7 linked regions of the Homo sapiens genome follow. The protein of the gene in region 1 purifies or fractionates together with the protein of each later gene. This does not show direct contact. Each region holds a gene or a part of one and is shown in the gene's direction. Other genes may lie near its edges.

The links.
Region 2: the proteins of ARMC5 (region 1) and HNRNPUL1 purify together in Homo sapiens (affinity purification with mass spectrometry, with the first as the bait; one study listed by BioGRID). This does not show direct contact.
Region 3: the proteins of ARMC5 (region 1) and TBCD purify together in Homo sapiens (affinity purification with mass spectrometry; one large-scale study listed by BioGRID and IntAct). This does not show direct contact.
Region 4: the proteins of ARMC5 (region 1) and LRRC47 purify together in Homo sapiens (affinity purification with mass spectrometry, with the first as the bait; one study listed by BioGRID). This does not show direct contact.
Region 5: the proteins of ARMC5 (region 1) and MAGED2 purify together in Homo sapiens (affinity purification with mass spectrometry, with the first as the bait; one study listed by BioGRID). This does not show direct contact.
Region 6: the proteins of ARMC5 (region 1) and SEPTIN11 purify together in Homo sapiens (affinity purification with mass spectrometry, with the first as the bait; one study listed by BioGRID). This does not show direct contact.
Region 7: the proteins of ARMC5 (region 1) and TF purify together in Homo sapiens (affinity purification with mass spectrometry, with the first as the bait; one study listed by BioGRID). This does not show direct contact.

The regions. Positions count from the first base shown.
Region 1 is NC_000016.10:31,462,501-31,465,082, forward strand, and holds part of ARMC5 (armadillo repeat-containing protein 5), read left to right. Parts: coding exon 1-417; intron 418-1,893; coding exon 1,894-2,387; coding exon of another isoform or gene 2,388-2,582.
Region 2 is NC_000019.10:41,270,872-41,274,371, forward strand, and holds part of HNRNPUL1 (heterogeneous nuclear ribonucleoprotein U-like protein 1), read left to right. Parts: intron 1-1,210; coding exon 1,211-1,364; intron 1,365-3,110; coding exon 3,111-3,184; intron 3,185-3,500.
Region 3 is NC_000017.11:82,937,065-82,940,564, forward strand, and holds part of TBCD (tubulin-specific chaperone D), read left to right. Parts: intron 1-206; coding exon 207-296; intron 297-984; coding exon 985-1,072; intron 1,073-2,302; coding exon 2,303-2,412; intron 2,413-3,500.
Region 4 is NC_000001.11:3,789,999-3,793,498, reverse strand, and holds part of LRRC47 (leucine-rich repeat-containing protein 47), read left to right. Parts: intron 1-3,500.
Region 5 is NC_000023.11:54,813,630-54,816,515, forward strand, and holds the end of MAGED2 (melanoma-associated antigen D2), read left to right. Parts: intron 1-740; exon of another isoform or gene 741-871; intron 872-1,031; coding exon 1,032-1,146; intron 1,147-1,618; coding exon 1,619-2,053; 3' UTR 2,054-2,061; intron 2,062-2,251; 3' UTR 2,252-2,386; downstream 2,387-2,886. UniProt on the Homo sapiens protein: Regulates the expression, localization to the plasma membrane and function of the sodium chloride cotransporters SLC12A1 and SLC12A3, two key components of salt reabsorption in the distal renal tubule.
Region 6 is NC_000004.12:77,012,252-77,015,751, forward strand, and holds part of SEPTIN11 (septin-11), read left to right. Parts: intron 1-2,470; exon of another isoform or gene 2,471-2,604; coding exon 2,605-2,766; exon of another isoform or gene 2,767-3,500. UniProt on the Homo sapiens protein: Filament-forming cytoskeletal GTPase. May play a role in cytokinesis. May play a role in the cytoarchitecture of neurons, including dendritic arborization and dendritic spines, and in GABAergic synaptic connectivity.
Region 7 is NC_000003.12:133,749,393-133,752,892, forward strand, and holds part of TF (serotransferrin isoform 1 precursor), read left to right. Parts: intron 1-3,500. UniProt on the Homo sapiens protein: Transferrins are iron binding transport proteins which can bind two Fe(3+) ions in association with the binding of an anion, usually bicarbonate.

The DNA.
Region 1 (2,582 bases):
GGGCAATGCTGGTGGCGTGGAGGTGCTGGTAGATGAGCTCCGGCAGCGCCGGGATCCTAATGGAGCTAGCCCAACCTCCCAGCAGCCCCTGGTGCGGGCTGTGTGCCTCCTATGTCGTGAGGCCATCAACCGGGCCCGACTGCGGGATGCTGGTGGCTTGGATCTACTGATGGGCCTGCTGCGGGACCCTCGTGCAAGCGCATGGCACCCTCGTATTGTGGCTGCCCTTGTGGGGTTTCTGTATGACACTGGGGCCCTGGGCCGGCTGCAGGCTCTGGGACTTGTGCCTCTCCTGGCTGGGCAGCTGTGTGGTGAGGCTGGTGAGGAGGAAGAAGAGGGAAGAGAAGCTGCTTCCTGGGACTTTCCTGAGGAGAGGACCCCTGAGCGGGCACAGGGTGGAAGCTTCCGGAGCCTCAGGTGAGTCCCTGCCTCAGGGCTTGGGAGGGTGAGCAGTGCAGTGATGTGGGGTTTGTGTCTGTCTTGGTCCTCTTCACTACCTCCACCCCTATTCTGTCTGAATAAGACTTTTATAACCCAGACTCCTGATTCCCACACGACCACCTGCCAGTTCCTATTTAACACACTCCACTCCCCTGAGTCTACCTTTTTTTTTTTCGAGACAGAGTCTCACTCTGTCACCTAGGCTGGAATGCAGTGGTGCCATCTCCACTCACTGCAACCTCTACCTCCTTGGTTCAAGCAGTTCTCCTGCCTCAGCCTCCCGAGTAGCTGGGATTACAGGTGCCGGCCACCACTCCCAGCTAATTTTTGTATTTTTAATAGAGACAAGGTTTCACCATGTTGGCCAGCCTGGTCTCGAACTCCTGACCTCAGGTGATCCACCCGCCTCAGCCTCCTAAAGTCCTGGGATTACAGGCATGAGCCACTGCACTGGCTGGATCTACCTTTTAACCTTGGTTCCACGCCAGCACCTTTGAACTTTGGGCCCCAGACAAGTTCACTGGGAGGTGGGATATACGCTGGTTAAGATGGTGGGCTCTGGAGTCCAAGTTCTTACTCTCTTACCATCACTCATGAGCTGAAGCATCACAGGAAAGCTGAGGAACTCTTTATTTTTTTTTAAACATTAGCGTTGGGGATCTCGCTTTGTTGCCCAGGCTGGTCTTGAACTCTTGGCTTCCAGTGACCCTCCTGGCTCAGCCTCCCAAAGTGTAGGGATTACAGATGTGAGCCACCATGCCCAGCCCCCAGCGCTTCCTATTTCCTTTTTATTTTCTCCATGACCCCTGTACTCTACACTAGCCCCACACTAACATAACTCATGGTACTCTTACTTCTTGTCTGCTTCTTCTCACTGGAACATAAACTCCAGGGGGACAGGCACTTTGTTCAGTGCTTCTACCCAGCACCTAAAGAACGGCTTGGCACGTGACAGGCATCAGTAATTACTGAATGAGGTTTTAGTCGTATCCCCCTCTCACTTCCGTTTCTCCCCTTTCTCCGCCCTCCTTCTCTCCCCTGGCTTTACCTCCCTCCAAGACAGCTTTTAGCTCATGCAGTGGCTCACGCCTGTAATCCTAGCACCTTGGGAGGCCAAGGCAGGAGGATCGCTTGAGCACAGGAGTCCGAGACCAGCCTGGGCAACATAGCGAGACCCATCTCTACAAAACATTTAAAAAATTAGCTGAGTGTGGTGCACACAGCTGTAGTGCCAGCTACTTGGGAGGCTGAGGTGGGAGGATCACTTGAGCTCAGGAGTTCAAGGCTGCAGTGAGCTAGGATCCCACAACTGCATTCCAGCCTGGGCTATAGAGGGATACCACATTTCTTTAAAAAAAAAAAAAAAAAAAAAAAAGACGCCTCACGCCTCTTGGACTCTGCCCCTTAACCTTGGCTCTGGGTTCAGTCTCCTTCCCTTTCTGCCCTCCGCAGGTCGTGGCTGATCTCCGAGGGCTATGCCACAGGCCCTGATGACATCTCCCCCGACTGGTCTCCTGAGCAGTGTCCGCCGGAGCCCATGGAGCCGGCCAGCCCCGCCCCGACCCCGACCTCGCTGCGGGCACCACGCACCCAACGCACTCCGGGCCGCAGCCCCGCCGCCGCCATCGAGGAGCCTTGGGGACGCGAAGGGCCAGCCCTGCTGCTGCTGTCGCGCTTTTCCCAGGCCCCTGACCCAAGTGGGGCACTTGTGACCGGCCCGGCGCTGTACGGCCTGCTGACCTATGTGACCGGCGCACCGGGCCCGCCCAGCCCACGTGCACTGCGCATTCTGTCACGCCTCACCTGCAACCCTGCCTGCCTCGAGGCCTTCGTGCGCAGCTATGGCGCGGCGCTGCTGCGGGCCTGGCTGGTGCTGGGGGTGGCGCCTGACGATTGGCCGGCACCACGTGCCCGGCCCACTCTCCACAGCCGGCACCGAGAGCTGGGTGAGTTCCCATACCCACCCGTCTCCTTGCCCCCATGTGAGTCCCCATCCTCCCCCATGGCTTCCATGGGCCCAGAACCTCACCTTCCCACTCACCTGTCCTCCCCAGCCCGTCCTCCAGACAACCTGTCACCAGAGTGGGGTGGGGAGCAGGGCGTTCCAGTCCCTCCATGGGCCCACAGGCAGAGTTCTGCTG
Region 2 (3,500 bases), on another chromosome or scaffold:
GGTGTAAGCCACTGCGCCTGGCCTCTCCTCCCCATTTTATAGATTGAGGAGTTGGCTTGTCCGATGGCAGAGCTGGGGCTACAACCTAGCATACTTGCTCCCAGGCTAGTCCTCTTGGTTAATAAGCAGCATTCCTTATCATTTGTGCCTTACTATTTGGAAAGCAGGGTCCCACTATTGAGAACTGATGGAGCCCGGACTGACCCCCAGTTTTGTGCTGCTTTTACTGTGTTGTGGCCTCCCAGTGCCTTTTCTTAGTGTATCTGGTTGATTTTGTCTAACGCCATTCTGGTTCATCCACAAAGTTAAATCCCCAGACATTTCTTGTGGGTGGCTCAGAACTTTACTGAATGTAGGTTAAACCGCAGATTTGTGTCAGGCTCTGTGAGACTTGTAGGATCATTCAGCCACAGGAGAATATTTTCTGTGCCGTTATCCACAGACATTCATCAGGAGCCCTGTGTGAGCCCAACCTATTGCTGGGAACCAGGGAAGCTCTCTTCAGGATGGCTGAGCACCATCCCAGCCCTAGAGAACCAGGAGACTTTTCTGAGAGATGTGGTCCACATGCCGAAGCTGGGGAGTGATCCAAAATGGTCTGGGGTTGAATGCAGAAATGAGTAGATGTGAATGAGCTTCAGCATCAGGGATTAATGCTGTGGGAGAAATGAAGGTAGCCTACATCTGTGGTTTGCTCTTGGTTAGGCACTGATTCCTGGAGTCTGCCTGAGACTAGGACTTACCCGTGGTCCACAGCACGGTATCCCATCCTGACTTTCTGTTAATGGTATGACTTAAAGAGGTTATTGCACCTATGGGATGGCTTAACCGGAGTGATTCTGGCCTCTTTTGGTAGGGTAACTAAAGCCCGTAGAGTTAGCTGCAGGACCACAGTACCCTGTTGAATTCATCCTCTCCCCCTCCCTTGCCAGACTGAAGAAGCTTTGTAAGAACTAAGGCAGAGAGGTTCTTTGGGAAGAGAAATTGGAGAATTTAGGGTCATGGTATCTCAGATCCTAACCCTGTTCTCCAGTATGGCCTTCTTGGCTGGCTCAGCAGGCTTCTGTTGAACTCAGCAAGCTGCCTGTGCCCAGCCCTTCATCACTGTAGTGAGGATCCTGCTCACATCTCTCAAGGGAAAAGGGACCAGAAAAGTGATAGCTGGGGAGCTTGCGAGTGTCTTGACCATCTGAATTTGTCTTGACAATAGAAATGAAGACAGAGATGAAGCAAGGAGCACCCACCAGCTTCCTCCCGCCTGAAGCTTCTCAACTCAAGCCAGACAGGCAGCAATTCCAGAGTCGAAAGAGGCCTTATGAAGAAAACCGGGGACGGGGGTACTTTGAGCACCGAGAGGATAGGAGGTGGGTGTATGAGGCAGCAGTCACCCTTGCTCTGGTAGGTTTCTATATCCATAGCCTCGTGCTTGCTGGGGACATTTGCACTAACCTAGAGGGGCTGAGTAAAGATTCCCTCTGCTTTCACACTCTTCCTGTCCCTTCCCGTACTTGCTACCAGATTCAGCTTTCCTAAACTTTTGGTCCTTCCCCCAGTTCCTCCCTTCTTACCTGCAGGGTAACTTCTAAATATCTTAGACTTTCACGCGTGAGATGCCAGCCTGCCTGTTCTGTCCTTTGCCTTACTGCCCCTGCAGTCAGCTGCTTGATACCCGTAATGAAAGAAATATCTGTTTCCTAACACTACTCCCAAATACACATCCTCTTCCCATTCATCCACTCATTCAGTCAGTTCTCACAGTGCTGTCACGAAGTGCCCACTCTTGGGCTGGACACTAGCAACATACAGATGGACAGTGGGTTTTGCCTTCTGTTGTTCCAGTGTGGGGACTCAGACACATACACTAGTAAGCCACAACCTCTGAGGTGAGTAGTCAGGATGCAGGTGAGTTTCAGGAGTTCAGAAGAGGGAGCAGCCTCTGCTTTGGTCATTTCCCTTCCCTAACAAGCCCTTCCCTCCTTTCCCTCCAGACCAAGTCCTTCCCTTCCCTCCTTCCTTCCTTCAGTTCCTGTCTGAAGCCTTTTGCAATTATGAAAACTAGGAATGGCCACTGTACTCATCTGGACTAGTCATCTGACATTCTATTTCCTATCTGGCGGAGTCCACCTTCTAACTAGCTTGTTACTGTCTGAGACAGGGCCTGGATCTCACAGGCTATGATTTAAGTTAGGACATGGATCCCACCTCATATGGGGTTCTTCCACTGCCTCCCACAGAGCAGAAGCCTGGAAGCTACTTACTGATGGAGAGCAAAGGAAGAACACTCGCTCTGATCCTGGGCTGGCAGGGAAAGTTTCCTAGAATGGACTTAACATGTGATGAGCACAGCTCATCCATGTTAGCCCTGGCCTGGCGAGGCCAGAGGGGCCCTCCACCAGAGGGAAGCCTGCTGCTGGGAGAGTCAGCAGCCAAATGGGCATGGGCTCCCCATCTGTGCATGCAGTGCACTGCGACCACCCAGACTGTCCAGGCAGGACCCTGAGTGTTAGATTCTACCTTTCTACCCTTCTTCCTCGTTCCTGTACAGCAGAAACCAACAGTGTTAAGTCCCTTTTTTAGCGTTTTGGTAGGAAAATGAATATCGTTTATAATTTAGGACACTGAAAAAAATGGGTCATCTCAAATTCTTACAGATGTAGGATTTTAAGAAGCCTGGTACATGGATAGATAGTAATTATTGGGATTTATATAGGCTCTTGCACATTCCCCTTCCTGGCCAGCACCCTTTTGGGATACCACAGCCTCCAAACAGTAACAGAGATCAGTGTGGAAGTGGTTGTCAACATGCAGAGGGTATGGATCAGAATCTTTGGGTGTAAAAAAAGAGTGAAAAAATTCCCTAAATGATTCTGATGCCCCCCTTCAGCAGAGCATGCCTTCTTCAATCCCTGTCTCCACCGTAGGAGTTGACGGTCATTGCTCTCCTTGCAAGGATGTAGGGTTTCAGAGTTCTTTTGCCCACCTCTGTGGAAGGAAATGGAGATTCAGGAAGCAGTCTGGAGGCCACTCATAGATTACAGCAGAACATTCATTTTCTTTCCTTTGTGCTCATCCATTGTTCTTGTATGACTTAACCCCTGTTTCTAATACAGGGGCCGCTCTCCTCAGCCTCCTGCTGAAGAGGATGAAGATGACTTTGATGATACCCTTGTTGCTATTGACACCTGTAAGTCTTTGGAGTGTGCATCTAATTCTGCCTTACAGTCAGTATGGGGAAATTGTGGTCTTGACCTTCACCAGAATCCCTGCTGGGCACCGTCCAAAGACATTGTTAGTCCACATGTGAGACACGGCTTAGCTCTGGAGCAAGAGTACTGGTTTGGAGGCAAAAGACCTACTCCCAACTCTAGCAGTGGGACCCTGGGCAAGTCATTCTACTTCTCTGAGCTTCCCTTCAGGAAGGAGTAAATCTGCTGTACTAACCTCAGAGGATTTTCAGGGAGACTCCTCAGTGGATATAGGAGCAATCTGGAAAACCCTGA
Region 3 (3,500 bases), on another chromosome or scaffold:
GGTGGCACAGCCGCTAGGGACCAGGCCGGCCTGTGGAGGTATTGGGATGGGGACCAGCGGACTTGCTGGCAGAGGGGCCTCAGGGCTGCAGGCTTCTTGGACTGAGCCACTGGGAGGACGGAGTTGACCTTCTTTGAGACAGAAAAAGTGTGCATCCCGGGGCTGCCTGTGAAAGCTCATCTCTAAAGTGTGTGTTGTTCTTCCAGCCACCCCTTTGCTGTGAAGTTGCTTGCGCTCTGTAAGAAAGAAATCAAGAATTCAAAAGATATCCAGAAGCTCCTGTCAGGCATCGCAGTGTGAGTTTCAAGTGCTGCTGGCCTTAGACGGAATGGCAGGGCGCAGCCTCCCTTGGCTGAGGGCAGGAGTCCACGGCTCCAGGCGGGAGAGGAGCAGTTAGTGTTACTCCTCAAGCTAACCTAAGATCGTGCATTCCAATGTTCAAAGCAGTCGCAATGGGAGGTGAGGCAGCCCAGGTGCTGGTGGAGGGAGTTCCCGCGGGAACAGGCGAGCTCTGCCTCTGCTGCCCTCGCGCTCTGCCCTGGCGGGAGGGGAGGCTCCGGAAAGGAGCTGCGTGGTCAGGGGCTGCCTCCCCGATTCTCCTGTGTGCCCTGGGGGTCGCTGTTGAGTGCCTTGCTCTGCGGCGCTCAGGTGGACACTGGGCAGGTGCGCCAGCCAGCGATAGGCACCTTGGCTGCTCTGTGGCTCCTTGAGGTGGGGGTCCTCATGGCAGGGCGAGCGGCCCTGCAGGAGATCCTCTGTGAGGCGTCCTCACTTCCCACAGTGACTTTCCAAGTGCGACACTCGTGTGTGTAGGCACAGTGCAGATGTACGCACACACACACCTCCGGCTTGGGGCCCCAGGCCCGCACTGTGCTCACGGATCTGCTCTGCCCAGGTCTCTGCATGGGCCTTTGGGTCCGGGGTTTGCTGGGGTTGGCCTGCGCGGGGTGGGGCTCACCTGGAGCCATGTGCTGCTCCCGGCAGGTTCTGCGAGATGGTGCAGTTCCCCGGCGACGTGAGGAGGCAGGCCCTCCTGCAGCTGTGTCTGCTCCTCTGCCACCGTTTCCCGCTGGTGAGTGCCTGCCCCTGCTCACGTGTGTTTGCCGTGTGGACACAAGCCCCTCAGTGACAAGAAGGCCTTCGCTGGCACTGTTGTGTTGGTGTGCTTTCCAGCCGAGCCCCTCTCGTTAACGCGCCTGGGTGACGACGCGTCACAGGCACGCGGCTGCCAAGGGGCTCTGGACGCCACTGTTCTGGCTTTAAGGACGGGCTGTCCGGCTGGCGTTTCTATGGACATACATTGAGGGGTGACCTGGCGGTGGGATCTGGCTCAGGAGCTTCCAGAAGGACCCAGGCTGAAGTGGTTCAGCCACACCTAGGGGCAGTGCCCTTCATCCCCAGCACTCCCCGGCTATTAGATTTCTAGGATTTCTTTTCTCCTGGCTGCAAAAAAAACCTCAGATGATACAAAGGTGACATTTTCCTAAAAGGCAAAAGTAACTTCATGTTGTATGGTGGTTCTCGAAGTGGGGTGCCGGACCCTCAGGCTTGGCACCTCTGGGGCTTCAGCAGTGCAGCTCTTGGGCCCTGTGCTGCCGACTCAGCACCTCCAGGGTGGGCCCGGGGCTCAGACCACCAGCGCAGTGAGACATGATGACCAGGGCACCACTCAAAAAGAGAGCAGGCGAGATTGCTTCCCTGATGAAAAGAGAGCAGGCGAGATTGCTTCCCTGATGAAAAGAGAGCAGGCGAGATTGCTTCCCTGGTGAAAAGAGAGCAGGTGAGATTGCTTCTCTGGTGAGGGAGCAGGTTGGTTAATAGATAGCGGGCGAGATTGCTTCTCTGGTGAGGTAGCAGGTTGGTTAATAGAGAGCAGGTGAGAGTGCTTCTCTGATGAAAAGAGAGCAGGCGAGATTGCTTCTCTGGTGAGGGAGCAGGTTGGTTAATAGCAGGCGAGATTGCTTCTCTGGTGAGGGAGCAGGTTAGTTAATAGAGAGCAGGCGAGATTGCTTCTCTGGTGAGGGAGCAGGTTGGTTAATAAAGCATTTAAACAAGAATGATGTCATCTTCACTGCTGGGATCCTGCAGCTAGCTGTGTGTCTGTGGAGGGAGGAGGTGGTTAATGGGCCTGGAAGGCACCTCCTCTTGGTTGCAGCCCTGCTGTGGCTGGGATGGGATGCAGGGTCAGCGTCCTCCTCCTGACGCCTTCCACTGACGGGGCTCCCTGGCCTGGGTCCTGTCGTCTCTCCGGGGTGGGGCGGTGGCGCTTCCCTCCGGCAAATGCACTGCATCCCTGTCCCAGATCCGGAAGACCACGGCCAGCCAGGTGTACGAGACATTGCTCACCTACAGTGACGTCGTGGGCGCGGATGTGCTGGACGAGGTGGTGACTGTGCTCAGTGACACTGCGTGGTGAGTGAAGGCCCTTCCTGCACGGCCACCTGGGCCTGGCACCGCCCCTCTTCCTGTCCCCACCGTGTCTACTCGTCTCTCCCAAAACCCTCTGATAGGAGGAGGAAAGAGGGTTCCCAGGTCTCCACATCCTCTGCTTAGGTTTTACAAGGCAGCCGTGCTGCTGTAGCCGAAACCTCTTCTCAACCGCCCTGTCCCCAAACAGTGTCAGGTGTCAGGAACACAGCAAAGCCATCCATCCCACCAGGGGAGCGGGCACCTGTACCACAAGGCTGTGTCTGGTGGCCTGTGGAGCAGAGGGCACTGAAGGCCTGGCAGGTGCTGCTGCCCCAGACCTCTCTAAAGTTCTCTTGGAATAGGCCGTGTGAGCACCTGTTGGAAATCAAGAGGCACAGGCGGAAATAAGAAAAGCTCTCCCCACGCCTCTGCTCTGATGTCCACCCCCTTCCTCAGGGCCATGAGGCCCTCAGGAGGCCATAGTGCCACTCTCCACGTTTACTTTGGCAGGCACAGTTTCTGCAACATGGGCTGGCTTCTTTACCATGGGTGGAGTAGAATGGCGGTTTTGAAAGATGTGTGTATTGAGTTGGGGGTGGGAGGGTCTGAATGAGAGCAGAGTGGGGAAAGTGCAGGCTCAGGTGTCCTGGGCCAACCGGTATGTTCCTGGGAACAGCAGTGATGGTGTCTTACACATATGGGCATGGGCACCCATGCTGGCTCACACACATGCTCACTTGCACGCGCGCACACACACACACACACACACACACTTCTAAAAGGGGAGCAGTCTCGTCACCCCGTGTTGGAGATCAGGACTGAAGCAACCAGAGGCTGTGTGGGTGTCCACATGGCATACCCGGGGTGGTGGAGTCCCAGGTGTCCTGCCTGTGGATGCTGCTCTGTTTTGAGTGCCGACTGTGAGGGCCTCCGTGCTGATCCCGGTGCGTTGCTACAGGTCTGTGGGGTCCACGCCCCTTGTTGAATCCAGCAAGGACGTAGGTGACGTTCCCTAGGTGTCTCCTCGGAACAGTGACCTTCCAACAGGGCTGGGTTCCCATAGAGCTCACGCACCAGGCAGCCGCTGTGGC
Region 4 (3,500 bases), on another chromosome or scaffold:
TACAAAGGCAGTTGAGTTTTACGGAAGGAGTATTATCATTTAAATTACAAATGTCTCCCAAAGTTAGCTTGGCCCAAGCCCAGGAATAATTAAAGGTAGTTTGAAGGGCCAGGCGCGGTGGCTCCTGCCTGTAATCCCAGCAGTTTGGGAGGCTGAGGCAGGCGGATCACCTGAGGTCGGGAGTTCTAAACCAGCCTGACCAACATGGAGAAACCCATCTCTAGCTGGGCATGGTGGCACATGCCTGTAATCCTAGCTACTCAGGAAGCCAAGGCAGGAGAATCGCTTAAACCCGGGAGGCGGAGGTTGCAATGAGCCAAGATGATACCATTGCACTCCAGCCTGGGCAACAAGAGCAAAACTCCATTTAAAAAAAAAAAAAGGTAGTTGGAAGGCCAAAGATGGGGATTGGTTAGATCAGATCTCTTTCACCACCATAATTTTCTCACTGTTACAGTTTTTGCAAAGGTGGTTTCATTGGCATTTCCTGGAAGAGGCGAGTTCACTGGCATTTTCCTTGGTCCTCAGGGCTGTAGGCATCCCTCTAGGACTAAGGTGTGATGTTGGATACAGCATGGTCTACTCCCACCTTCCCACCTGACAGATACTTTTGGTTTTCCAGAGTGTTGATGTACTAGGCATGTATCTTAACATTGTGCCTTACATCATGTAAGTGTCCAGTCAGTTGCAATATTTCTCTTCAAATTCATAGATGTCTTTCAGTATTCAAGTTCTTAAAAGTGTTGTGGGCCAGGCCCACGCTTGTTATCCCAGCACTTTAGGAGGCCAAGGCGGGCGAATCACGAGGTCAAGAGATCGAGACCATCCTGGCCAACATGGTGAAACCCCGTTTCTACTAAAAATACAAAAATTAGCTGGGTGTGGTGGTGCATGCCTGTAGTCCCAGCTACTCGGGAGGCCGAGGCAGGAGAATCGCTTGAACCCGGGAGGCAGAGGTTGCAGTGAACCGAGATTGCACCACTGCACTCCAGCCTGGGTGAGAAAGTGAGACTGCGTCTCAAAAAAAAAAAAAAGTGTGCGTCCAGCTCTCTGTAGCACCTGCCTGGTAAAGCATTCCTCTTTATGGTGCCCAAAACAATGTCATTCAAGTCAAAGAGTGTGTCTTGTTTTCTAAATCCCAAAAGAGGTGGCCAAGTTCCCTTTCCCCTGGGCCATTCTGTTCGTAAATTTTAGGCGTCCAGTGGCTCTCTATCAGGAGACCTGTTTCTTGGAGGGTCATGCAAGAGCTATTGGAATCCCTTGTTGCACTCAGATGTCCTTTTGGGTACCTTTCTGAGGAATGGCTACCAGAACTATGCCCAGCAATGTAGCTACGCACATTGGAATTTCGCACACAAAGGCAAATGCATTTGATGTCCTTCCTGGTGCTGTGGGGAGATGGGGAGTGTAGAAAACCAGAAAACTGAGCTCAGAAACAGAAGGCAGGCTGGGCACAGTGGTTCATGCCTGGCATCCCAGCCCTTCAGGAGGCTGAGGCGGGCGGATCACTTGAGCCCAGGAGTTTGAGACCAGCCTGGGCAACATGGTGAAAACCTGTCTCTATAAAAAATACAAAAATTAGCTGGGTGTGGTGGTGTGCACCTGTAGTCCCAGCTACTCAGGAGGCTGAGGTGGGGTGAACGCTTAAACCTGGGAGGTTGAGGCTGCAGTGAGCCATGATCACACCACTGCACTCCAGCCTGGGCAACAGAGCTAGACCCTGTCTTAAAGAAAGGAGAGAGAGGCCGGGTGCGGTGGCTCATGCCTATTATCCCAGCACTTTGGGAGGCTGAGGCGGGCGGATCACCTGAGGTTGGGAGTTGAAGACCAGCCTGACCAACATGGAGAAACCCCGTCTCTACTAAAAATACAAAATTAGCCGGGCGTGGTGGCGCATGCCTGTAATCCCAGCTACTCGGGAAGCTGAGGCAGGAGAATTGCTTGAACCTGGGAGGCGGAGGTTTCGGTGAGCCAAGATGGTGCTGTTGCACTCCAGTCTGGGCAATAAGAGTGAAACTTCGTCTCAAGAAAAAAGGAGAGAAAGAAGGGGGAGGAAAGGAAAAAAAACAGAAGGCACGGGCTCCAGCCCTGTCTCTCTGTGGCTGCGTGCCGTTGGGTCTTGAAGGCTCTTTGCTCCTCTGTAGGAAGACTGGGAGGGTAACGCAGTACACGAAGAGGGAAAGAGATGGGGGAGGTAGTGCTGGTCATTGTGGCTGCTTGACTCCGAAACCACGAGGCTTAAAGCAGCAGCGGCTCTGCGCTCTGGGCTGGCTCCGCCAGACAGTGGACAGTGAACAGTGGACAGTGCTGCAGCTCTTGCTGCTGGTCGCTCGCGTGGCTGTGCTCAGCTGGCGTGGGCTCAGGGCTGGGCTGCCGGGGTGGGTGGGCTTCTCCGTGTGTCGTCTCGGGGCCTCTCCCTCCCCTTCTTTCACAGGGCTCAGGGCTCCTCAGTACAAAAGCAGCAGCTGCCAGCCCTTCTTCAGGCATCAACCTGGAACATGCTTCCTGCCACTTTCCTGCGTTCCGTGGGTTAACTAAGTGCGAGCCCAGTTCCGGTTCTTTGGGAGGACTGGCTCTTTAGGGGCCGCCAAAATAACAGCACAGAGCTTCTGCCTGTCCTTTCCCTCCCCAGAGGGGCGAGACTGCAAATGGAAGCAGCTCGGCCTGGCTCCTAGTGCCCATCCCCACAGCCATTCCCCAGGGAGCACCCCCAAGCCTGGGCTGGGACCTGCAGTGCAAAGGCCCTGACCCTCTTTCCTCCCAGCCACTGGGGACGAGGCCTCTGCTGTCCTATGGCCTCAGCAGTAGCTCTGCCTGCGTGGGAGCCTGGCTTCCCCAGTGTCCTGGCCTCAGAGCCACGTGGCTTGCTGAGACCTGAGAGCACCCGGCCGGCCCTCCCTGGCTGCTTCCCGCTGCTGTGGCCCGTGGGGCTCAGCTGGCAGTGCTGTGGTGAGCCGAGGATGGGGGCACGTCACACCTCTCCTGACTGCATTGTAAGTGGCCATCACGCAGGCGTGTGGTGTCCGTGTGGGAATGAGGGATGGATGGGACAGATGTTACCTGAACAGCTGATGTGGGCAGGACGGTGCCTTAGTAAAGACATCCTTTCAGGCCCTGGGCCACTCCCCTCCCAAGGCCAAGCTGCACAGGGGAGTTCAGCCTCAATGTGAACCCTCCTGAAGCCAAAGGCTCTCCCCCAGCTTCCGAGTTTCTCAGTTGCTGCCGGAGGGAGTGGGGCTCACTCAGGGGCTGGCGCTCCTTATTGGGTTGGTTTATGTCAGCCTGTCACCACCATGAAGTTAGGATCCTTCCCCGGCAGCAGGTCCCCTGCAAAAGCCATGGGCCCGGAAGGCAGCCGGTATGCCAGGCCAGAGTCAGGACCCACGTTGCTGCCGTCAGCTTAGCCACTGCGAGGGTTGTGTTTCCTGCAGTAGAGTGTCAGCTCCGGGTGACAGGTGACGGCATTTCATCCCATCAGGTGTCAGGAGGACCCCTAGCCA
Region 5 (2,886 bases), on another chromosome or scaffold:
GATGCATGTGTCTATGTGTGTATGTATTTGCATATTTGCATGTATGCAGGTGGGATTATTCCTTGGGCGGTGATGGGAAACAGGAGCAGCACATGTTTCCTGATCTGTTACATATACCTCAACATTTGTCTTGAGACCAGTTCTGCAAGGGAGGGATTATCATTACCATCATTGTACGTATGCAGAAACTGAGGTTTAGAGAGGTGAAGTCATTTGGTCAGGGTTACACAGGTAGCAAGTAGAAGAGTTATGTTTAGAACTTGGCTCCAAAGCCTTAGTTCTTTTTATTCTGCTAACTAGAGCTTCATAGAAATTAATTTCCGTAAAGAAATGACATAGAATGGTAGCTTCAGGCAACCAGGTACCATGCTGGGGAGTTGACTTGTACATCTCATTTCATTTTCATAACTACCCTGCAGCTGTCATCCCATCCCCGTTTTACAGTTGAGGGACCTGGGGCTCCGAGAAGGGAGATCTGAGCATGGCCCACAGCTGGTATGGGCCTGGAGCCCAGTCCTCTTGAATTTCTGGCCAAAGCTCACCTATCCTTGGTCCTTGGAGGACATGCAAACACTCACACAGCCACACGCATGTGCACACAGAAACACACACAAAGGGTCAGGAATTCAGCATGTGTGAAGCATGCTGCTATTGGCTGTTCTTCCTCTGTAGTCTTTCTGGTCATTTTCTGTGGTGGACCTTTCTGGGCTTGGCCAGGCTGAGGCCAAGACACTTGCAGTGGGGTGTGCTCAGAGCAGGGGGCCCAAAGAATGGCTCCTCTGTTTACAACACACCCAACAGGAATCTGGGGTCATTGTGATGAGGGCGTCAAACTTGTGGCTTCCCTATGAACAAACGTCCCCCAACACCTCTATGTGGCTTCTGGGCAAGACCAGTGGGACAGGGCTCAATATTGGAAGAAAGACTGTAGTAATTAGTGGATGATGTTGCCATCTGGAGCCTGTCCAGTCTATGCATGGGTAGGCCATGAATGGTCTTAGAAATAAAGGCTTTGAACCTCTCTTTCCAAGGTACCTGGACTATGCCAGAGTCCCCAATAGCAATCCCCCTGAATATGAGTTCTTCTGGGGCCTGCGCTCTTACTATGAGACCAGCAAGATGAAAGTCCTCAAGTTTGCCTGCAAGGTAATTGGAGAGCTCCTTGAGCTTGGCAAGTCAAGAGCATGGGGTGCCCCTGGCTGGGGCAGGCTGTGTGCAGAGCAGCCTGCAGTTCAAATCTGAATGTTTTGGTGCTTCTGTTAATTGTCAAAACACTGTAACAGGCACTTTATCTGAATCATTTAAGCCTTACAACCTGATATGTCATTGCCCTGTTACAGATGAGAAAACCGAGGCCCAGAAAGGTTGGTAGGTGACATGTCCAAAGTCATGGGGCTAGGAAGTGTCAGAGCAGGGATGGAATATTAGGTGCATAATTACTGGTAATACTGTATTATTACTATTATCTTTTTATACTAAGCATGTAGCATAGTGCCTAGCATAAAGGTAGATGCTTAATCCTCTTATGCTCCTTCTGATGGTTATTTACATAGTAATACTGTATTATTACTATGGCTTAATCCCTCTATGCTCCTTCTGATGGTTATTTTTGTTTCAGGTACAAAAGAAGGATCCCAAGGAATGGGCAGCTCAGTACCGAGAGGCGATGGAAGCGGATTTGAAGGCTGCAGCTGAGGCTGCAGCTGAAGCCAAGGCTAGGGCCGAGATTAGAGCTCGAATGGGCATTGGGCTCGGCTCGGAGAATGCTGCCGGGCCCTGCAACTGGGACGAAGCTGATATCGGACCCTGGGCCAAAGCCCGGATCCAGGCGGGAGCAGAAGCTAAAGCCAAAGCCCAAGAGAGTGGCAGTGCCAGCACTGGTGCCAGTACCAGTACCAATAACAGTGCCAGTGCCAGTGCCAGCACCAGTGGTGGCTTCAGTGCTGGTGCCAGCCTGACCGCCACTCTCACATTTGGGCTCTTCGCTGGCCTTGGTGGAGCTGGTGCCAGCACCAGTGGCAGCTCTGGTGCCTGTGGTTTCTCCTACAAGTGAGATTTTAGGTATCTGCCTTGGTTTCAGTGGGGACATCTGGGGCTTATGGGGCTGGGATGAGGAGCTGGATGATTCTAGGAAGGCCCAAGTTGGAGAATGATGTGGAGAGTGTGCCAAGACACTGCTTTTGGCATTTTATTCCTTTCTGTTTGCTGGATGTCAATTGACCCTTTTATTTTCTCTTACTTGTGTTTTCAGATATTGTTAATCCTGCCAGTCTTTCTCTTCAAGCCAGGGTGCATCCTCAGAAACCTACTCAACACAGCACTCTAGGCAGCCACTATCAATCAATTGAAGTTGACACTCTGCATTAAATCTATTTGCCATTTCTGAGTTTATTGCTTTTTTTGGCGGGCTGTCACATTTTGGTATCACATTTAAAAATCAGTGAGTTGGGAAAGTTTCCACCTCAGTCTGTGTTTAGTTTGAGGTGATATTGTTGGATTCCCAGGAGCGAGATTAACACACCTTTCTGGGATAGATTGGGCCTCACGTCTAATTGTTGGATTCCCAGGAGCGAGATTAACACACCTTTCTGGGATAGATTGGGCATCACGTCTAGCCTTCAGGGTGGTGGGATTTTAGTGGGGTGGAGTTCAAGAGATTGTAGTTACAGAGGACACACTTTGAAGGAGAGGCTTGAGGTCGGCAAGTCTAGAGCAGAAAGTGTAAGTAGAGGAGACTGGACATCAAATATAGAATCCCTTTTTGAGAAATTTGAATGAGGAGAGAGAGGGGTACAGAGCTAAATGGAGATACAGGAACAAGGGAGCATTTTCTTGGGGAAGGAGAGAGAGACTTGAGTAGGGAGGAGTCAACGGAGAGGGAGAAGT
Region 6 (3,500 bases), on another chromosome or scaffold:
TTTAATTCAAAGTTTACAATGGAATAAAAGGTTAAATTTTTGTCTCTGTGATGATAATGGTCCAGCTTCTTCAATTTTAAAACTGAACTGCACATGTGTGTTCAAGTAAAGCAAAGTCTTAATTTCAGTGTGATCCCTGAGCTTGCCACATTTATACCTTCTCTTTTTCACAACACATGAAGGAAGAGACTGGTAAGTTTGATAAAATTTTGCACCTTACTATATATTAATTAGACTTTCCATTTTGAAATAAATAGAAGACAATACATTCTGAAATAAGGATGAAACAAATGGCAACAAGAACAACCACAAAACTAAGCTGTGGATGGTATTTACCGTTAGATTCAAAACCCCTTTTGCATTCACAGAAAAGTCTTATCAGATGATAAAGCTCTTTAGAGGACTCTGCTGGGTGTTGTTACTATGATTTTATCTAAACAACACTGATAAAGATGCTGTCTCTCCAGAGGGACAAAACAGTGAGAGAATGCTCAGAAGATCAGCCTGTCCCCAAGGCCTCTGTCTCAACTGTCCTTTAAAGGGCTGGAGAGGCTGAAGCCAAGCCAGGCTCCTTTGGCTTCCAGCAGGCACAGACACAGTAGTTTACAGAAAAATCTTCTAATGGCCTGGAAGGATCACTGCAGCTAGAGTACTCTTCGCAGAATAAATAGAAACCCTCCTTCATCCCATCTGATTCCTCAGCTCCCTGGGAGCTGTGCCATTAGCCATGATAGTGGAGAGATCACGGGCAGTGAGGGCCGCTTCCGGGTCTGTTGTGTCCTTGGAAGCAGGGGCAGACCTCCCTGTTCTCAAGAGTGCCCCATTCTCCACAGACATTCTGAAGGAAGTAGAGTGAGGAGGCTTCCTAATCGAGGGCTGAGTATGCAGACCCAGCCGGATAATATCCAACACTATTATTATGTTTAATAGAGTTCATTGAAAACGGAAAAGAAAAAGGCAAAACAGGCACAACTAATAAAAGCAAACAGTCAACCATAAAGCAGGTTAAACTTTCAAAGAAGTGATATTGTTGGAGAGTTGGAGAGCTAGCTAGCATCTGAAAATGATAATATCAAAGTTTTATTTATACAAGTAAAGGGAAGGGTTAAGCAAATGTATGGTCATTTCAGAAAAGACTTTCAAGTCCGGCTAGTGAGGAAAAAGAGGTTTTAAAACTAAATTGCTTGATTTCTCTATCTCCTCTGATCAATTTGGCCAAGAAAGAGTGAATCTCTGCCATTTTGTCTATGTTGACATTAATTAAATACTAAATGTGTATCAAAGATAGCCAATAAGAACAATAGGAAGTTTCTTGTTCCTCTGGTCCTGATCCAAACATTTCCCCCACCATCAATGATGTTTTTCTTAGTCTGCAACTTGCTGGAGGAAGCCCAAGCATGGTGAGCTTAGGAGCAGGTTGAGGAATAGGTTGAAGAATAGGTCTTTCTCTCAGCATGTCATCTCATTCGGGTTTATCAGGATTTCTAATTTGGCCTTTGGATAAAAGGAGAAGCAAAGGCATGCAGATGGGACCTGAACACCTCCCGAAAGACTCTCTGTTCCCTGGCTAGGACAGCTTCCTTACCGAGTCTGTTTTCTCTCACCTGAACTGGGTGAAGATCATAGTTCTATATATCGGATGTCAGTAACGTCTTATTGAAACCTGTGTTTACAGGGATTAGGGGAAAGTTAATCTTAAAATGCGAATTTAAGAAATGTGTCCTGTGCACAGGGCTGGGGGCAGCCGGGGAAAGAATGTCCACATGGGGTTTGGAAGTTGTGCTCTGGGGTATCCTTGGCTCCCTTTCTGGGCTTCCTGCCACTAATGTCAAATTCTGAGTTCTCCCCTGTTCTTTGTAACTGATGCTGTGAAAGTGAGCCTTGCCTTTGGCGCTCGATTTTATTCTGGCATGAAGGAGTAATTTGATGGAATTACTGATTTTCAAAAGAATTAGTTGGTGTGATTTTGAAAAATTTTACAGTGGGCAACACCATTTTTGTTTTGGCTAATACATAGGTTCTCCTCTCAGCAATTTTCAGGTCATCAGAAGAAAGAAAGGATGTTGGGCTGCATAGAACTGAATACTCCACTGCTCTTACAAAAACTTTGCTGTTATACTGTTAGGAGGTGCGAACTCAAGAGCCTAAAGTAGATGGGAGGGGTCTAAAAGGAGTGGTTGGTCATTCAAAGAATAAGTTCCTTTGTTATCACTATTTGTCATAGAAGAGTAACACTTCCTTTACTCTGTAAAGAAAAATGAGGTAGCATAGGAGAGGAAATTACAAGTATACTTTCAGTGCAGGATGGGAGGAAGTAAAAGTGTTTGAATATGGAACTAAAAGTTTATCTCAGGTCTTCTTAATTTTTCACCTAGGTAGAAAGTCTGATTTTCATTATCATCTCTACCCCAAAAAAAAAAAAAATTGTAGGTACATAGGAGGCGTATATATTTATGGGGTACATGAGATGTTTTGATATAAGTAGGAAACATCTTTATTTTTTACAGTAAGGTTTTGCAATTTTTATTTGTTTGCTATGTTTTATTCACTTGTCTATTTTTCTTATGTTGGAATTGTGTAAAAATGGACGTGTCTGTTTTACAGGTGAACATCATTCCAATAATTGCAAAAGCTGACACCATTGCCAAGAATGAACTGCACAAATTCAAGAGTAAGATCATGAGTGAACTGGTCAGCAATGGGGTCCAGATATATCAGTTTCCCACTGATGAAGAAACGGTGGCAGAGATTAACGCAACAATGAGTGTAAGTCCTCAAGTCAAATGGGAACAAGTGATTTTTATGAACGCCTGTCTTAGTAGCAGCATTGTAGAGTGGCTGGAGCACTGGACTGACTAGGAACCTGATGACTTCAGCTGTAGTCCAGCTTTGCCACCACTTCAAGTCATTTAACCAGTCTGCTCCTCCGTTTCTCCATCTGTCAAATGGGAGCTTTAGACAAGATGATCTCAAATTTCCTTCCCACTCTAACAGTTACGATTTCTACAGCAAATCTTGTGAGAAGGAAATGCCAGCCCAGTACCATTTCATAAAAAGCAGCTCAAAGGAAATAGATCTGTGCTTGTTTCTACCAATCTTGGCAGAAATACATTAGCTTGTCCCAATTTTGCTTTGGTGATTGGATCCTGCCCTTCCCTCCTTTCTATTTTCCCTATACTTTTCTAATCATTAGGTAAACTGGCAGTTGAGGATACAATTTCCACATCACAGAGAGGAACTAGTCAGGTGATAAATGATTAAAGTGACAGTGGTTCCCTGTGTGATTGTGATGTAATCCCTCCTGGTGAGTCTCCATCCTGCCGGTTGATGCTCAAGTCTGTTTCACTACTCTTTTGTGTGTCTCACAGCCCATAGCTCAGCTGTGAGCTGCAATGACTCTGCACATCTTTTTTTCCCTTTGGGAATGCATAACATCCATGAAAGCCACATGCTTTGCATATAGTGGAGGCCCAGTGATGGTTGTTGGAATTCAAAGTAGT
Region 7 (3,500 bases), on another chromosome or scaffold:
GCTGCAGTGGTGAATTAAACACATTGGTCCTTACCCTCAGGGAGCTCATGGGCTAGTCAGGAGAGCAGAAAAACACACGAATAAGTAAACTACTAATTCCAAAATGTGGGGATGTACAATGGAGGGAAAAAGGAGAGTGTTCTGACAGGGACTCACAGAAAAACCTGCTTTGTCCTGGGTGGTCAGAGACCATCTCTCTGAGAGAGATGTAATGAAGGACTGAGCCTGGGTGGGCTCCAGTGTAAAATACACCAGGCAGCAAACAAGAGCATATGCAAAGGGCCTGAGGCAGAGCAGAGTGGGCTTATTTAAGTTGCTAGTGGGAGGCCAGGGTGATGGGAGCTGTCAAAGATAAGCACAGCCAGATATTAGTTTAGGCAGTGACAATAGGTTTCATTCAGTAACTGCTGACAGTGGGGGAAAGAGCTAGGCTCCATTCTGATTTGTGCAGTGGTGATGTGAGCATTTTAAAGGGAGAATGAGGGAGGGGAGAACGCAGGGCTCTGTAGAGTCAGAGAAGTAAAAAGGTAGAAAGGGCTGGTCAGTGTAAATGTGAGGAGGCCAGCTGTGTCTGATAGCTGGCAGTTCTCTCGATTAGGACTCTATTCTCCCGCAGAGACTGCGAGACAGACACTCTATCCATCCTGATGATTGTGTTGCAAAGGAATGGCTCTCAGTCCTTGAGAGAGATGCTTGTGAGTTTCAAGAGATACATATTCACAGTTTTAAGTCCTTTTTAGTAAATTCTCTTGGAAAGGGAGGTCAGGGGCCTATCATCAGTTGTGTGTTGAGTAGAAGAAACAGGTACATTTTCCTGGCAGCACTGAGTTTTCTCAGGCAAGCACTTTAAGGGGAACCGGGCCATCCTAGGGACACAGATTTGTTCTGCTAGGAGCCATGCCAGAGTCTGGTCAGGTCTCTTAGTGCAGAGGTTTGGACAGATGTGTCAAGTGTGGGAAATTCTACAGTTCTCAGCACAAAGCAAGCAGTAGGTTAGCCGAAGGGAAAAGGTGGAAGAAACATCCAGATGCAGCCTGGCTTCCCTCAATCCCCGCGCTGGGGTTTTCCGTGTCTTTCTGCTGGCTTCCCCTTGGCTTCCCTCCAGCCTTCTCTCTGTAGCTTTCCCTCTTCTGGGTTTGGTTATTTTGACTTGTGAGAGCTTGCTTGATTATAATCCTGTCCCTCCCAGCTGGCGCAGGTTCCCCTGGGAACCCTGCAGCTCTAGGGCTGGACGCTGTGTTTTAGGCCTTAGCTCTTTGGCTCCCTGAGCCCCCGAGGCACCAGTGATTTCTTGGTGTCTTGGCAAAGAAAGACCAGGTTCCTGACCACTCTCCCAACCCCACTGCAATGGGCAAAGCTCTCGTTTGTTTGCTTCATTTTTTAAAAAATATATATATATTTTATTATACTTTAAGTTCTAGGGTACAAGTGCACAACATGCAGGTTTGTTACATATGTACACATGTGCCATGTTGGTGTGCTGCACCCTGTTTGCTTCATTTTTATTCAACAATGTGAGGACTGGGGAAGGGAAGGTGTTTGCAGATTAAACAAAACCACGAAGTGTGTTTCATATATAAGGTCTAGTTGTTGTGGAACAGAAAGGCCCATGATGTCTGTTAATTTTGTTTTGTATTGTGGTATATTAAAAATATGTTTTACAACCCAAATATCCATTGATGAGTGAATAGATAAATAAAATGTGGTAAACACAAATGATGAAATATTTTTAGCCTTAAAAATAAATGAAACTCTGATATATGCTACACTGAGATGAACCTTGAAAACATAAGTGAAGCAAGCTAGATACAAAAGGACAAATATTGTAAGATTCCACTTTTTTTTTTTTTTTTTTTTTGAGACGGAGTTTCGCTCTGTCGCCCAGGCTGGAGTGCAGTGGCGCGATCTCGACTCACTGCAAGCTCCGCCTCCCGGGTTCACGCCATTCTCCTGCCTCAGCCTCCCGTGTAGCTGGGACTACAGGCGCGCGCCACCATGCCCGGCTAATTTTTGTATTTTTAGTAGAGACGGGGTTTCACCGTGTTAGCCAGTATGGTCTCGATCTCCTGACCTCGTGATCCGCCCGTCTCGGCCTCCCAAAGTTCCACTTTTATGAAGTATCTAGAATAGTCAAATTTATAGAAACAGAAAGTAGCATAATGACTACCAGGGGCTGGAGTGGGGGAGAAATAGGAGGTAATTGTTTAATGTGTAAAGAGTTTCAGTTTCTGGAGATGGATAGATGTGATGGCTATAAAACAACGTGAATGCATGTACTTAATGCCACTAAAATGTACACTTGAAAATGGTTAAAATTGGCTGGGTGCGGTGGCTCACGCCTGTAATCCCAGCACTTTGGGAGGCCGAGGCGGGTGGATCACCTGAGGTCAGGAGTTTGAGACCAGCCTGGCCAACATGGTGAAACCCCATCTCTACTAAAAAAAATACAAAAATTAGCCGGGTGTGATGGCAGGCGCCTTAATCCCAGCTACTTGGGAGGCAGAGGCAGGAGAATCGTTTGAACCCTGGAGGCAGAGGTTACAGTGAGCCGAGATTGAGCCATTGCACTCAAGCCTGAGGGACAAGAGCGAGACTGCTGATATAGTTTGTCTTACAACATATTTTATTTCATTTAGAAATACTATTGTCTTATTACTTGATTGTAACACAACAAAGTTCATGGAACTATAGCTTTTGCTTTGTAATTTTTTTTTTTTTTTTTGAGAGTCTTGCTCTGTCACCTAGGCTAGAGTGCAGTGGTACAATCTCGGCTCACTGCAACCTCTGCATCCCAGGTTCAAGCGATTCTCCTGCCTCAGCTTCCCAAGTGGCTGGTATTACAGGCATGTGCCACCAAGCCCAGCTAATTTTTGTTTGTTTGTTTTGGTAGAGACAGTGTTTCACCATATTGGCTAGGCTGGTCTCGAACTCCTAACCTCAGGTGATCCACTTGCCTAGGCTTCCCAAAGTGCTGGAAGTACAAGGTATGAGCCACTATACCTGGCCTGCTTTGTAATTTGATCAATAAGAAATCTTCATAGAGAACTGGCAAGGGCTTCTGGAAAAATCATTTTGATTAAAGACATTTAAAACAAAAAAGGAGTAAAACTATGTGTTTAAGTGTCTAAATAAAAGATGGTTGGGCTCACTTTAAGGATTTACATAAAAAGAAAATAAATTATAGATCTAGTAAGAAGGCAGCTATAATATTTCAAGGGACCTGTTGATGTAAAGATGAGGGCTTACAGAAGCACAAAGTCAAAAAGGAACATAACCTGAAGTAACAGTGTAATGATAAGAAATAAACCCGGAATGTCTGCACTGAAATCCCAGCTCCATGACTTACTGGCTATGTGGCCCAGGGAAGTGACTTAACCTTTCTGTGCCTCATATTTCTCACTTGTAAAATGGAGCTGAGAGAGAAAGAGAGATGAGCTGCCCATGTGTTGGAGTAGACAATTATACCAGAGATGAGCAAAAATGGAAATAATAATCAAGCT